Regions from separate parts of the Homo sapiens genome. Here region 2 is linked to region 1. The links come from fine-mapping of genetic effects on gene expression. Tissue or cell type: blood mononuclear cells. Region 1 holds a variant in brackets; the other region holds the start of a gene. All regions are shown on one strand. Distances are from middle to middle.

Region 1 (2,628 bases):
TCCCACAGTCCCCACGGATGCGTGCTCAGGCCAGAGAGGGCTGAACACATCCCCTGCCCGGGGACTTGCCCAGGAAGGACTGGTTGTGAAAGAAGAAAAACCACATCCACAGAATATGTTCATTTGGTTTTGTTTTTTTGAGACAGGGTCTCCCTCTGTCACCCAGGCCGGAGGGCAGTAGAGTGATCGTGGCTCACACTTCAACCTCCTGTGCTCAGTCAGTCCTCCCACCTCTGCCTCCTGAGTAGCTGGGACTGCAGGCATGTACCACCATGCCTGGCTGATTATTTTTTTTGTAGAAACGGCGGGTGGTCGGGGGTGGGGGGCCGGTCTCACCATGTTGCCCAGGCTGGTCTTGAACTCCTGACCTCAAGCAGTCCTCCCACCTCAGCTTCCCAAAGCGCTGAGATTACAGGTGTGAGCCACGTGCCTGGCGTCCACAAAGTATGTGAATACAGTCACGCTTCATAACAACGTTTCACCCAACCCCGGACCACAGAGATGATGCTGGCCCCATAACATTAAAATGGAGCTGAAAAACTGCCATCACCTTAATGACGATGTCACCATGTTGTAGCACAATTACTTGTTAATATCAGTTTAGTGTGGCCTCAGTGTGCAGCATTTATAAAGTCTAGAGTAGAGTACGGTCATCTCCTAGGCCTTCGCAACCCCTCACGCTCACCCACTGCCTCGCCAGAGCAACCTCCAGTCCCGCGAGACCCACTCGTGATGGGCACCCCAGGCAGGTGTGGCATTTTTACCTTTTATACCATACTTTTACGGTCCCTTTTCTAGGATTAGCTTTTGTGTTCAGGCACATACTCAGCATTATGTCACAACTGCTTCCGGCATTAAGTGGATGACAGCTGTGGTTTGTCACCTAGGGGCAATGGCTACACCACACAGCCTTGGTGTGGAAGAGGCTGTCCCATCTGGGTGTGAGTGCCCTCCGTGATGCTCACACAAAACGAAACCACCTAATGACACATTTCTCAGGACGCATCCCCATCATTCAGCAACACCCAACTGTATTCCCGAGCAACGGCGGCCTGCACCCGGAACTCACGCTGCCTCGGGTCCCAAAGGCTGAGAATGTGGAGATTAAAGAGGTTCCGGGCGGGGCCCCAGGCCCTCACCCTCCCCACCCACTGCAGAAGCAAACCACCTCCCCTGCAGGCCTCAAATAATTCCTACAGATAAAAATCTAACGAATATGAGCTCATGCCAAAAATCACACACACAAGAAGACAAAC[C/T]ACCACGGCTAAGGTCAGAATCAGACCCACAAACACCTCAGACGCTGTCATTTCCAGACACAGAACACAAACGTGTCATGTGTAAAGAAATAAGAGACAAAAATATAAAACCAAAAAATCTGACCAAGCAATTTTTAAATATCCACGCCAATCTTCCGGAGATGAAATGCATCATGGCTGGCCTGTGGACCTTAGCAGACAGATCTGACGGCCGATCACACACGGCAGAGAACGCCAAGCTGGAGACACTGCAAATAGCATCCAAACCTGAGAGGCGGGACCCTGGCAGCAGCCGATAAGAAACAAGGGGGCTTGGACTGAGTTCCAAGAGGAGAACAGAGGAAGGGGAGAAACGGTGTTTGAAGAGGCTCTGGTGGCTGAGGAATTTCTAAAGCCAGCAAGACCCCAAAGCCCAAGAAGTGCCAGGCAGGTAAACACTCACCCGGCCAACAGGCAGGTAAACAAACACTCATCTGGCCGACTCCCGGCCAAACCAGAGTGAAACCGCAGAACCCCAAAGACAATGGAAGGAGCTGAAAGCAGCAAAAAGGAAAAAGCAGGCTGGGCGCGGTGGCTCACACCTGCAATCTCAGCACTTTGGGAGACTGAGGCGGGTGGATCACGAGGTCAGGAGTTCGAGACCAGCCTGGCCAATATGGTGAAACCCCATCTCTACTAAAAATGCAAAAATTAGCCGGGTGTGGTGGCACACGCCTGTAATCCCAGCTGCTCGGGAGGCTGAGGCAGGAGAATCGCCTGAACCCGGGAGGCGGACGTTGCAGTGAGCCAAGATCGCACCACTGCACTCCAGCCTGGGTGACAGAGCGGGACTCCATCTCAAAAAAAAAAAAAAAAAAAAGGAAAAGAAAAAGAAAGAAATTATTTATTTCCCTCTGTTCCCTCCATTCCCCCGAAGGGAACTGCCCTGAACTGAGGCTGTCTCCGCACCAGCAGACATCAGAAGAGAGAACAGAGACTCCCTCCTGCTGCTGGGAAGCAACTGTCAACCCAGAACCACGGAAATCCACTGAGGAAAAGACATTTTTATCAACTAAATCAGTACATTTCCAGACAAAGAAAATCTGAGCTGTTCCGTCACCTATTTTTCCATGCCAGGGAAAATTCTGGAGGCTGAGATTCAAGCAGAAGCTGTGTGCAAACTGGCTACGCAGAATCAGGATGGTGACATGGTGACAGGGTTATGTGTGACTGAACAAGGCAGAACCAGAATACACCACCGAACAGCATGCAGGTGCCCCTCAGTGTCCCTGGGGGACTGGATACAGGACCCCTCGGATATCAAAATCCTGAGATGCTCGAGTCTCTGACAGGAAATGGCATAGGATTTGCATATAAACTACACACATCCTCC
Region 2 (2,628 bases), 110 kb before region 1:
CACAAGCAGCTGTGAGCTTCAGGGAACCCTGCATGAGTGAGAGGCTATGATTCAGTTCCAGGCAGTGGAAGTTTCTGGATGACAGAATGTTCTATAGCCACACTGCCCTGCCTGCAGCCTCCAACCACACTGGCCACAGAGCCCGTGGACACGTTCGTGCTGGAGGAACTGAACTGCTGACTTTATTTAAATGGGACTGAGGAGCCAAAGCCACGGGCGCTGGGGCTGCATGTTGGGGCAGCCGTCCTCAGTTCTCTCCCGCCAGCTGGGAGCCGCTCAGAGCCATCTCCACCTGGCTGTGGGAACAGTGATGTGCTTCCCAGCACTTCTCAGACCCCAACACGGGTTATTACTTTCCCAGCTTCTGAAAAAGCTGGGATTCTGCACACACCTGGCCCCAGGGGTCTCAGGCACTGAGGAGCTGTGTCAAAGGGCAGGACGACTCCCCCTTTGCCCAGGGTGTCTCCACAGAGGGACGGACCAGCCAGCAGCCTGGGGGCCTGTCAGGCCGGGCATCTGCGAGGATGTGGAGCTGCCCCGCGCCCCTCCCAGCTGGCACCCGGCCGAGCTGTGGATGCCTTGCCAGTTGGAGAAGCGCATGGCGCCCGCCCTGCTGCGCTGACGGCACCACAACCGTGATGACGGCCTGTGAGGCTCACTTGTGACCCACAGCCACCCCGGGCCCCCGATCAGGGCCGAGCACCCCGCTGTGTGCAACACAGGGCCGGATGGTGACCACAGGCTCCGGCACGCCCCAGGGCCCACCTGTCAGCACTGATGGCTGCGAGACCACGGCAGTGCCATGGAAGCAGGAGATGAGCCTGTGTCCAAGGGCAGCGCTGGCCCAAGGAGCCGAGTGAGGGAAACCAAACTCTCCATGAGGCACCCGCCATGTCTTCCCCGGGACCCCTGCGTCAGCAGCCGTGTGCCCAGCATGGCGAGGCAGGGGCTCCGGCGGGAGAAGGAGCACCCAGCCCCACCCTCCCGTCTCGGGGACAAGACGAGGCCCAACAGCCCCACCCAGCCTCTGGGACCACCCAAGGTCCCGTGGAAAAGCACCTTCAGCCCCCTGCCTCTCCCAGGGTCCCCAACCTCTGGCCGCACCTCGAGAGCCCCACCAGCAGGTACTGGACACCACCGCCGTCCAGGCATCCCGGGACCAGGCTGTGCTCAGGTAGCAGAACCCAGACGTCCTGGGGCTTCCTCTCGGCCATGGCCAGGGTGAAGGTGCTGGCCCACATGTCTGCCCCAGCCCGGTCCATGCTGCCGCCTGGCTCCGCAGTGTGGGCTGAGGGCTGCGCCCGCCGGGGGCCCAAGGAAACGTCCCCGCATCCCGCGCCGGCCAATCAGCCACCTTGACAACAGCATGGTCTCCATGGCAACCAGATTTGTCTCCGAGAAATGGGAAGCAGAAAGGAAAAATACAATACAATGCAATCTCCCATGACCCCGCCCCCCAGAGAGCATCCCTGTGGCAGCACCGTGGTGGTGGTGGTGGGCGTGGGCCCGTGGACACGCAGGGGCCTCCCCAGACCCGTGCGTGTAGAGGCCCGGGTGTTTTCACACATCGCACCAAGGAATCATCCACAGCCCTCTCTTTCTAGTGCACATCAGGAGCGGTGGCCCACACTCATCCCTTGCTGAACACTTGGTATTTTTCCAGCTTGTGGCTATCATGTAACTTATTCACTCAGCTTCTCTCTGCAAACAGCACTAATGCTTTTCACACAAACAAAGCTGAGAAGAACTTTATAGAACGTGTATCATTGCAGATTGTCCCGTGGGTGTATTCTCTTAAACTTTTTACTAGTGAGAAATATAAAATATTTACATAAAATGCCTAAAACATAAATGCAGAGCTTCACAAATTATTCTAAAGTCTTAAGTCACCACGTCCTATAGGAAGAAACAAAACCTCGCTCTGCCAGCCTCCAGAGCTGGCTGCCTGTTCCCTCCCGATCTCAGCCCGCGGCCCCACCCCCACCCCCTGCCCTCCTGGCAGAGGTGCCACCAGCCTGGCCGTGCCTGCACAGACAACGTTGAGGCTTCAACACCTATGATGCCTCCCTCACCGAGCCCTTTAGCTGTGCAGCTTCTGAGCTTTACATAAACAATTCATGCATGTGCCCAGCTTCTCACGCCTTTTCAGGTTGTTTAATTTCTGAGATTCAACAGCATTGCTGTGCGTGGCAGCCACCTGTCATGGCACAACAAGAAAGGGTGAGCTGAGAAGGAGCCGGGACGTGCAGGGGCGGAGACAGCCAGCTGATCCCTGCAAAACCTCAGCACAGATCTGCCCCCGGGAGGCTCCCGGCCACCCGGCTCTCCTCACAGCTCCCATCTCGCCATCTCTCTGCCCTGCACACTGAACAATCTCTTCTCATTTTTCTACCACTTCACACATTATCTCCTCGTCTCTGTCGACTCTGCAGCTAATGCTGGCAAGCGCCTTGTCATAGTTTTCATTTCTGAACCTTCTTTTCGGCCCTTTCAAACCTGTGACATCTTCCCGCCTTGCAGCTAGGTGTGACTGCAAGATAGAAGAGGAAGCCAGTGGGACGCACTCTGGGAAGGGGCCTCCATACAGGGCCAGACTGCCAGGGAAAGCCCCGCGTTTCTCATCCCAGC

What was found. PIP is the estimated chance that this variant, and not a neighbour inherited with it, causes the effect.
Region 2: it holds the start of RTP5, and the variant in region 1 is fine-mapped to the expression of RTP5 in blood mononuclear cells (TOPMed, PIP 0.97). The same link has a PIP of 0.9 or more in whole blood.

The regions. Positions count from the first base shown.
Region 1 is chr2:241,761,557-241,764,184 of GRCh38, reverse strand. All of the region lies in intron 9 of D2HGDH (D-2-hydroxyglutarate dehydrogenase), which reads right to left. Among named protein-coding and RNA genes, the nearest start is that of GAL3ST2, 14 kb to the left of the region's middle. The variant C/T (reference allele first, on the strand shown) is at 1,257.
Region 2 is chr2:241,868,391-241,871,018 of GRCh38, reverse strand. It overlaps RTP5 (receptor transporter protein 5 (putative)), which reads right to left and starts at 1,290. Exons shown (of 2, transcript NM_173821.3): 1 at 1,105-1,290. The coding sequence starts at 1,262.